Regions from separate parts of the Homo sapiens genome. Here region 2 is reported to be linked to region 1. Evidence: microRNA targets listed by miRTarBase, many of them from high-throughput screens and not tested one by one. Region 1 holds a microRNA gene; the other region holds the end of a gene's coding sequence.

The links. The annotated mature microRNA hsa-miR-136-5p reads ACUCCAUUUGUUUUGAUGAUGGA and lies in region 1 at 3,482-3,504, opposite strand. An mRNA with a match to its seed (bases 2 to 7 or 8) in the 3' UTR can be bound and repressed. Matches are read on the target gene's strand: a 7mer-m8 pairs with bases 2 to 8, a 7mer-A1 pairs with bases 2 to 7 and ends in A, and an 8mer does both.
Region 2: the mRNA of PAQR8 is a reported target of hsa-miR-136-5p. Seed matches in the 3' UTR shown: 7mer-m8 at 3,823-3,829.

Annotation. Positions count from the first base shown.
Region 1 is chr14:100,882,839-100,888,219 of GRCh38, reverse strand. It overlaps MIR136 (microRNA 136), which reads right to left and starts at 3,518; the gene lies at 3,437-3,518. It overlaps RTL1 (retrotransposon Gag like 1), which reads left to right. Exons shown (of 4, transcript NM_001134888.3): 4 at 3,346-5,381. The coding sequence starts at 3,432. MIR127 (microRNA 127) reads right to left here and starts at 5,241; the gene lies at 5,145-5,241. It overlaps MIR432 (microRNA 432), which reads right to left and starts at 3,737; the gene lies at 3,644-3,737. RefSeq lists a silencer at 2,234-2,528.
Region 2 is chr6:52,403,887-52,409,267 of GRCh38, forward strand. PAQR8 (progestin and adipoQ receptor family member 8) reads left to right here. Exons shown (of 2, transcript NM_133367.5): 2 at 1-3,891. The coding sequence ends at 392. Among named protein-coding and RNA genes, the nearest start is that of EFHC1, 14 kb to the right of the region's middle.

The DNA of each region.
Region 1 (5,381 bases):
AAGGAGATGTGATTTTACAAAAGAGTTGAAGGCATTCAAGTGCTGTGTTTGGAAGGGGTGGGGGATGAGCTCATTGAGCTCATTGTTGAAATCTCATGCAGAGGCGTTCGGATGTCAGCCAGTAAAGCGTTTTAAGAAGTAAATTGATGAGGGTTTTGTCTCCAGAGAAACTGGATTGTAAACATATTTTAAGTTAAGGTATCTGGATTTGCTGAACCAGATAATGAATAAGCATCAGACCACTCGTGAGCAGAGGTATCCCCTGGGCACAAGGGCACCCAGGCTGGGCTCCATGCTGAGGAGACGGGTCATTTATAGACAAAGCATGTTTTTATAAAAAGAAGTTATATGATTAAATTTACATAGCATGCTAAGAAGTTTGGACACTATTTTGAGGGATGACAGAATTACATTTTTATGCCATGCTAAGGAATTTGGACTTCAGCCATTAAGAGTCTTGTTTTTTTTTTGAGAGGGAATCTCCCTCTGTTGCCCAAGCTGGAGTGCAGCGGCGCAATCTCGGCTCACTGCAACCTCCAAGGTTCAAGCGATTCTCCCGCCTCAGCCTAGGAGAAGTAGCTAGGATTACGGGCATGAGCCACTACTCCCGGCTAATTTTTGTATTTTTAGTAGAAACAGGATTTCACCATGTTGGCCAGGCTGACCTAGAACCCTTGACCTCAAGTGTTCCACCTGCCTTGGCCTCCCAAAGTGCTGGGATTACAGCTGTGAGTCACCGTGCCTGGCTCATTAAGAGATTTTTAAGGCAGTAACATGGCAGAAATTTTGTCTTGGGTAGAGTAGTCAGAGAAATTTTATAGTAAAATGTATTGTTCTATGCTAAAAATAATTAGACCTTATCTCATAGGTAATTAAGAGATAGAATAAAGCTTTAAGCAGAAGTTATAAGAGCAAATTCGTGTATCTTGCAAGGGAGAGTGACCTTTTTATTTTGAGGAATGACATGGTCAGAATTTTATATCATGCGAAGAGGTTTGGAATTAAGCCAATAAAGGGTTTTAGGAGTGACCTGATGAGATTTGGGGGTTCGTATTAATCAGTTGGCAAGTAAATTACACGGTGAAAATTTTCATTTTATGCTAAGTGGTTGAAACTTTACAGGCAATAAAAATGAATTTTTATATGTGTTAAATAGAGAAATTATGAGATGACCTTTATTCATCTTGCTAACAGTTTAAACTTTGATGTTAAGAAGTATTAAGATTTTTCTAACATGCCGAGGATATTAGATTTTGAGCTGAAGGCAGGAACATTGAAGGATTTAATCATTCACATGGTCGAATTTGTAAATATGTTAAGCAGTGTAGACTTTATATTAAGAGGGGGCATAATCTAGTTTTTAAATCGTCTTGCTAAGAAATTTAAATTTTCACCAATAAAGAGTTTTAAGTGAGAGACATGCTGAGATTTTTATTCCTGATAGATAAGTCTGCAGATGAATTACTTAGTTTTTGTATTTCAATTAGAATTATTTATTTGTATTTCAATTAGAATTTTATATTAGAGGTTTGGAATTTTACAGTAATAATGCATATCTCAGAGGACTTTTATGGAGAGGAAATGAGTTAATTTCTGCAATGTGCTATGTACATCATGATGATGATGATGATGATTCTTATAATTCCTATACCATGCTGATTTGTATACTGTGCTTTAAAAAAATGTGATCTCTACCTTGAGGAATGACAAAATAAGAATTTTATATTATATTAAGGCCCTTACATTTTAACCAGAGAATAGTTTTGGTGAGTTTACATGTCAGATATGTTTACGCTAGAAGGTTTGGATTTAATATTGCAGACAGTAAATAAACAGTGGAAGGCTTTAATCAGAGAGACTGCATGATCAAATTTAAGTGTCATGCTAACAAGGGTGTACTTAATTTTGAGAAACAGCAGATCTGAATTTTGTATCCTGTTGGAAAGCTTGGATTTTAGCCAATGAGTTTCACGTAAGGGGGAACGCAGTTTTTTTTTTTTTTTTTACGGATGGGTCCAGTGGCTTAGAAGAAAACTCAGAAGTAACAAAAGGTGTTAAATTTATAAAGAGCAGTAGCTTTACAGTTAATCTATCAGATAATCAAAGCTTAATTTGCTCTGCCCCAGCAGAGAAGAAATGTGCAAATAACCCCAACCAAGACATTCCCTTTCAATTCTGTCTCAGCCCACTAAAACCACCCAACACTAGATTTCCAAAAATCCACTCTGGGACCGTCAGATTCCAAAGATGTCACATGTTCCCCCCAACCCCCACACTCAATGTCCCAACTCTGCCAGATACATGTCTGTTGGGAGGGCTCAACCAGCAACAGAGAGAAAAAGATATTTGCTAGAAAGAGGAGACCAGACCCACTGGCGTTAAGAAGGGGACCTGGGAGGATAAGATTGGAGAGGCGTGCAGATATGCTTGCACTGGTGAAATTGAGGCCAGATGTGTGAAGTTCCAGAAGCCTCACAAAGAGGGCAGTCCTGGGAGAGTGGAGATTGTAGGAAGAGAAGGAGATTATTTGAAGATCTCCTCAACAGCTCAGAGGTCGGGAGAACATAGCATTGGAAGGAGACCAAATCGAGAAAGAGAAATTGGCCAAAAGTCTGAGTTAGAATCAAGTAACAAATATGCAGTTATCCAGCACATAGTAGGTATGTTATAAAATTTATGGAAAAAAAAAAAAAAAACCCAGACCTGTACACACCCCCTGAAATTTCTATTTTGAACATGGGGAAGGAAATAAGAACTATTTTGGGCTGCTGACCCAACTGACGGGACAGTGGCCAAGTGCCCATTTTCTCCTCTTCCACTGCACTGGTGAAACAGTAGGCATCTTTGCTAGAGATTCCCGCTCCACAACCAAGGTGGCTGGGCTTGCTCCAGAGCCCTGAGCCTGCCAGGGGTGGCTTTGGATGGTGCTGAGATGTGACCTCTGTGATTCTCAGGTGACCAAAGCAGGAAAAGAGGATTGACCAGGTGCATGTGCCAGGGGGGAATGGAGCAGCCTGTGCACCCTGCCAGGTACCCGCCTGCCACGGTGGCTGCTCCCAGCCACAGAATTTATGGGCTGTGAATTTCTCACATCTATGGAGGAAAAGGACAGGACAGGCAGACTGAATAAGCCTGGGAGGCAGGTCAGGGGTTGACAGATCTTCCCTCCCTGGGGGCACCCCAAGTGACCAGCCAAAGAGGCTGGCTCGATACAAGAAGGCTTTCCCCCATTTCTCTCTGCTCTGATTAGTTGGGCATCTGATTTGTCCTTGAGACCCTGATACTGCCACTTCACAAGATCCTAAACTACTGCCTTTACTCCCCACACTCCCCTTCCACCACCAGGTTCTGATCTCCACGGTCCCAGCTACTGACTGGACGCCATCACAACCTTACCAATCTTCAGAATACACTCCTTTCCATCCGACGAAATGATAGAACCCTCTGAAGACTCATTTGAGACGATGATGGAGCATAAGAATCCATCATCAAAACAAATGGAGTCCTCCGAGGGCTCATCCAACACCACCGAGGCGACGTCGGGCAGTGGAGTGCGGGGAGAGGCAGGGCCAGCCAGCGGCCCAGCCCAGGAAAAGAAGGAGCCCCCCAGTGGCCCACTCCAGGAAATGGAAGAGCTGCCCACTGATCTACTCCAAGACATGGAGGAGCCATCCAGTGGCCCACGTAAGGAAATAGAGGATCCACCCAATGACCTACTCCAAGACCTGGAGGAGTCATGCAACGGTTCACACCAGGCAAGGGGGGATCCACTCAGTGGAGCATCTGATAGGATGAAAGAAGCATCAGTCAACCCATCGGGAGCCCGAGAAGAACAAGAGGCTCACACTGACCTGAAGGAATCGGGAAGGGAGGAGACTCCTCAAGAGCAAAACCAGACCGAGCACTCAACCGCAGAACTTATGGCCATGGTGAGGTCCATCATCTCGCTGTACTTCCGAATGCAAGACCTCAAAGAGCAACAGAGAGTAGCAGAAGAGATCTTGATCAAAGGGATCAATGCAGGCCAACTGCCCGCCCCAAAGCACTTCTCTGGCGATCGCAGAGAATTCCACGAGTTCATCGTACTCTGCCAACTGACCTTACAGAGCTACCCAAGAATGTTCTATAACGACCGTCTGAGAGTTGGCTATGTCATCAATCACCTGTCCGGCTTGGCATTAGAATGGGCCAAAGCTCTACTGCAGGAAAACAGCCCCCTGATCGGAGACTTCCCAGCCTTCCTGGAGGCCATGTCCGAAGTGTTTGAGTACCGCCAGGCACTGCGTGTGGCAGAAGAGGCCATGTTCACCATCAGGCAGGGCGGCCGCTCTGCCACTGAGTACATCGATGAGTTCCAGAGCCTGGTACCCATCTTGGGCTGGCCAGATGAAGTCCTGCAGGCCCACTTGTGCCAGGGGCTCAACGAGGAGATCAGGCACTATCTATTCCGGGTCCCTCAGCCGGATTCCCTAGACAGTCTGATTGTGCTCATCCTGCAAATAGAAGAGAAGCTGGCAGAGAGAAGAGCTATGCTCAGGCTGCCCCCCGAGGCCCGCCCCCGGAACCTGACCTGGATCGACTCACCTGCTCCAGAGAGGTGGATGGTCAGCAGCTGGTTGCCCAGCGAAGTCCATCCGGACATCAATCGCGCCCACCTCTTCCTGCTGCTCATGGTGAGAGTGAACCCCTACCACAGCGTCGCGGTCCAGGCCCTGGTGGATTCGGGAGCTGACGGCAACTTCATGGATGAGAAGTTCGCCCAAGAGCACTACGTCGAGCTCTACGAGAAGCCGTACCCACAGCCGGTCCAATCCGTGGACGGCTCGCTGATTGGCAACGAGCCTGTCTGGCTCTACACGGAGCCCCTGGTGTGTATCCACCAGAACCACCAGGAGTCCATCGAATTTGACATCGTACCTTCACCGAACTTCTCTGTGGTCCTAGGCATCCGCTGGCTCCGAGTCCACGCCCCCGAAGTCGACTGGATCAAAGGCCGCTGCACCTTCCACTCTCCCTACTGCCTGAAGAACTGCTTCCGCCCGCCCCCGCCATGCATTGCCCTAGAGAGGCACGGCATGAGCCTGCTACCCGGACTGCCACACCCATACTCAGACCTGGCCGACGTGTTTAACCCGAAGGAAGCAGATGATGAGACTTCCGACCAGCCAAGCTCAGACGGATCCGATGATCTTTCTGAATCAGAGCCCTCTGAGCTTCAGCAGGCTGGAGACAGTGATCACAGCGAGACCTTTTACGAGTGTCCCTCCACCGCGCCTTGGGAACCTGTGGGTGCCAGGATGCAAGAAAGAGCCAGGCTACAGGAGGAATACTGGGACCTGCAGGACATGCTGACCAACAGACAGGACTACATACAGATGATT
Region 2 (5,381 bases), not on the chromosome of region 1:
TCAGCCCTGTGGCACACCGTGTGGCGCTCTGTCACCTGGCTGGCTGCCAGGAGCAAGCAGCCTGGTACCACACCCTCCAGATCCTCTTCTTCCTGGTTAGCGCTTATTTCTTCTCCTGCCCCGTGCCTGAGAAGTACTTCCCGGGTTCCTGTGACATCGTGGGCCATGGGCATCAGATCTTCCATGCATTTCTGTCCATCTGTACGCTCTCCCAGCTGGAGGCCATCCTCCTGGACTACCAGGGGCGGCAGGAGATCTTCCTGCAGCGCCATGGACCCCTATCTGTCCACATGGCCTGCCTCTCCTTCTTCTTCCTGGCTGCCTGCAGTGCTGCCACCGCAGCCCTTCTGAGGCACAAAGTCAAGGCCAGACTGACCAAGAAAGATTCCTGAGGCTGGCAAGTGGGGCAACGTGTGGAGGAAGCCCCTCATAATTTGGAGAAAACTTGATACAATAGAAGCTGACTTTTAAGGCATTGGCTTTTAAATTAATACATATATCCAAGGATATGTTATAGCTGCAGTGTTTGAAAGCCAAAGGATTTAAGAGTTTTGTTGTTGTTAATAAAAGGAATACTCCTTTTCCTTTTGGATCATAGCTTAACAAGGCACAGGAAGGGAAGGGATCTTGACTAAGATTCATGAGACATTGAATTAAGGAGAATCATCTTCATGCCTGAAAATTTAGCAAAATTCCGACTATGGCCTCCAGGGGCAATTCCTAAAAGCTGAATGGATAATAAAATTGGACTGGAAAGTAAGTAGGTGGCTGGTCCTCACCCTGTTGGAATGGCTATCCTACTATGCTGTTCTTTGGTAATGGAATAAATTGACCCAAGGACCGAATTTCATTTGGATTTCAAATTGTCCAGAGTGGAAAAGCCTTCAAGATGACATGATGAATTACTCAGTTCATCTGATTTCTGGTCCCTCCTTTCTCGACAACTATAATACTAACCCTTTTCTCAGGATAACTGTCTACACCTGGCAGTTTTCTCTGACGTGCTGTTCACTCACATCCCTACCTTGCATGGTAATATAAAGGACTAGGAAGCAGTCATACTTCCAGGAAATGCTTGGATTCATGTGGACATTCAGGAAGCTTATTCTCATATAATACTAATCTAAACAGTACTAGAAATTACAGTGCCAAGAGCCACCAGGAGGCCCAGCCAATAAGCATAGATACTATATGGTATCATGGGACCCATCTATTTTTTACCAGTGGACTACAGGATTACTTGAGAGTTATCAGGGCTGCCTAACAGACCAGGAGATCTGGGGGTTGCACCAGGGAATCGCCATATTTGACCAGCATGTTTTAAAAGCTCTTGGTAGGATTAGTTGGTTCTAAGGATCCCTCTAGGGACCTCATTATTTCAAGAGGAACCCAAAGTCCAGCCTCCTACATAGATGCTGCCCCACGAAGGACCCACAAAACTAACCTAGTTCAGGGTTCTCAGGCAGGCAGTTCTGCTTCAGCTTAGAGCAGAACCCATAAAATACTCAAGTACTGGGATAGGCAAGCATGTGTGTTTACTGTGGATTGGTCCCTGAAGGCTCCTTTGGGTGAGAACATGTGAACCAGGCACCCTGGTTTGTTTGGAGCATTGCTGCCCAGAAGCTTCTATGGGATAGGTGGTGCTTGGGATTGATGTGTTGTGGCCATGCAGCCCTCCCTGAGGATTGACTTCTGCACTAATCCAGTGAAGGAGGCTGTGTCAAAAGAAGGGCTCAGAAGCCCTCTTTTCAGAGGCAATGATTCCTGTCAGTATGAGGTCCCTTAGTTACTAAAAAGGGACATGATTTAACTCCAGTTTGATGAACCTCCTCCGAGTTTACTTTATTGTCTTCAAATCTTTTGTTTTCTTCCTTTTTGTGAGATTTGTGGGTTTTGTGCCTTATAAATGGAAATGTATGAACACAATATATGCTCATGTAGAATTTTCTGTTCTGGGTTATTGGGATAAGAAAAAATATATATTGCTCTTCAACTAGTGAATGAAAGAAACTTCAGAAAGCTAGAATTGCTTATCAATCAAAAGACTTTCTCAATCTATTTTGGCCACAAACAAACATATTCAACTGAAGCTTTCCAATAATCTTTATATCAAGAAAGCATGCGTCTTGTCAGCTACATTGTTTTCTTAGATGGATTTCTCCTGTTAATCCTCAAATATCTGAACTTCTGTGTTACCCAAGTGTCTTATACAAGCTTCTGGTGTCTAGGACAAATTTATGGCAAATAAAATTAGCAAAACTGAACTGGGTTGAACTGAACAAGAGGATGGGGGAATTGTGCAAATACGTTGTTAGTAGAAGGTCAATTTAAAATAGGGACTAGAAATTATTTGAAGTTTTCTTTATTACGGATTCAAAGACTTATTTTGAAAGTTGGAAGGAGAAGGGAGGGAAGAGAGCAGAAGGGAAGAAGGTGTAAGTCAAGCTCTTGAATATAACTGGTGGTATTGTGGGCAGAGATCTTTAGTTCAAATCCACGTATTTTTTAAAAGAGAGAACCGGAGGTAGAGCAATGATCAGATGGGTGCACAGACCAGTGCCAATCTGAACATTGTTAATGGCCTGTGACATGATGAGCACAGGAACAGGCATGAAGATATTGCCATACAATTTTAATTTATACAAGTATTGGCCCCTCAAGTGGTTGGAAATTTTTTTTTTAATCTCTTTTTCTGAGACAGGGTCTTACTCTGTCGCCCAGGCTGGAGTGCAGTGATGCAATCACGGCTCACTGCAGCCTCGACCTCCCCAGCTCAAGCAATCCTCCCACCTCAGCCTCCTAAGTACCTGGTACTACAGGCGCGTGCCACCACACCTGGCTAATTTTTGCATTTTTTGTAGAGACAGGGTTTTGCCACGTTGCTTAGGCTGGTCTTGAACTCCTGAACTCAAGTGATCCGCCCACCTCAGCCTCCCAAAGTGTTGGGATTACAGACATTAGCCATCACGCCTGCCCTAGAAACAGTTTTTTAATAGGAGATATTTGAGAGGCATTGAGGTAGGAGACTCTATGACATGCCCTCAGAATATCAGAATCTTCTTAGAAATAAACTAGGAAATGCAGATGTTTTTAACTACTCAGACTTTTGAGGAATTAATCCTTTTAAAACATTTTTGTTAAAGTTAGTGTATCAGTAAGAAACAGACCTAGTTTAAAAGGAATAATCAACAATTTTATAAAGGAGATGGCTTATTCAACCATAGCCCCTCCAACATATCTACTGGAAATTCTGCTGGTTAACTTTATCTCTCTCTCTCTTAATTTAGACTTTCAACCTATGAAAATGTAAATACCTTTGAAAAAACTAAACTATCAGTCATTTACATCCTCTCATGAATGAAATGCAGTGTAGGGAGAGGAGATGGCAGGACACAGCAAACAGGACACATTTGCCTGCTTCTCTCTTGCCTAATTCTTCCTGACCTGTATTTACTGATGCTTAATAATACTTGTAAGACTCTAGGGGTTCATTTCCCATTTCAGCGGAAAGTACTTCACTCAACAACAATATTCTCAAGAGTCTTCTACTGGAAGCTAGAAAGAAATAGGAATTTAAGTCCATAGAATGAAGGTAGTTATTCCTGCCTGTGTTGCCCACCTGTTCACAAAAAGTACCTTTATGCTTGAAAACATTAGGTTCTTTGGTTACTGCACTGTAGTTTCAAATGGATCCTCCAGATGGCATTCATGTCTTACTCAGAAAGGGCACTGCCATTGTCCCCAAGGCTTCTGTCTACTAATTCTATTGGTCTTGTGTTTTGCTTGCTTGGCAAAAAAAAAAAAAAAAAAAAAAAAAAAAAAAATGGAGCTATTTTCTGTCTATATAAATCTACTTATATGAATAACCATTAAAGTGATTTTGTATATGCATTGTTGTAGTGTCAGCAGTTTAAAGAAACAGCTACTTTGTTTCTTTGACAAGGTCTTAACAAGGACTACCCTGAAGAGGCCCCCTCTGAAAGGTTTTATTTATACAAACATTGTCAGGAAAAGGAGGTCAGGACACTATCTCTACCAAGAAGCAGGAAAGTATAAAAACTTTTAAAAAATCTCCATGCCTTATCCCCCATACACATATCCCCCATACACACACCCTAATACCTACTTGTGAGTAGAACAAATTGCTTCCCCACAAAATGCTATGAAGTTGATTTCTCTGAAGATTTCAATGTAATTAAATAAATATTCCTAGTTTCATAGATGATAGTGTAAAAGATTTCAACATTTTTAATTCATTGGCTACAATTTTATAAATGTAAAAATTATGAATTATACTATGATTTAACTATAGCAGGTACTACAATGTACGTGTTGTGAAATGTGGCATCTATTAACCAACTAATTATGTAGCCTTCAAAGTTAGATTAAAAGAGCTGTGTAAAAGGTGATTCTCTAGGCACTGCTGAAGCTGCAACTGCAGCTTCAGGCTATAGTACTATCATAATCACTAAGAAAACAGCATTTCTATGGCTAGAGGCTCCACTGGTCGAATTATGGTTGTCACTCTTGCCCAAACCCTTTTTTTTTCACCAGCAGGGGCCCCAGGCAGTTTGAAAATCCTTCTGTTGTTACTGTTACTAGTTTAACCACTCTTCAGTTATTAATTTAGCAAGAATTTATTGAGCACCTATTGGTGAAAGGTACCACCTTGGCTCTGGAGACACCACAGTGTGGAAAAACACACTCTGTGGGCAGAGAGTCTGCCGTCTGCTAAATGAGGACCAGTATCTTTTCCTTGGGCCATGAGGGTCCCTCTCCCCGGATCGTGGTTCCAATCACAGCCTGAGGGCCAGGAGGCTGGGACCTGGTTTGGGCCAGAACTTCTTCATAAGGATTAAGCCCTCTCTCCCCTTTACCTCCAGAGGTTGGAAACATCTTCCCCTGTAGCAAGGCAGTCACCTTAAAGCTGCCTCTACTTCCCGTTACTCCTGCTACTTCTCCGACCCTTCTCACTACCCTCTAGTTGTTTTAACTCAGTCATGGGGATCCTTGACACATCCAGACAGAGAGAGAGAGAAGGCCTAAATTTCCACAAGCAGTAGCGACTTCCCAGGTACATAAAGTCCCATCCTTCAAGGAAGAGGATGTGTGGTTCCAACCTGAATACAGGTTCCTAACTTGGTAAGTTGAAAACAGCATGCTGCACTCTGGCTACCTCCTTAAAACAATAACCATATCCTTTGTGGAATTATTATAGAAGTAATTTAACATGGAAGGAAAATCATTGCATTAAAAAGATAATTCATTTAAATATTAACTTTGGGAGCATATCTATCTATGGTAAGGGCTTTTCTTACATAACAGGATTCTCACTGGAAGAGGTATTCACTATATTTTAAGATTCCAAGAGGCCTGGACCA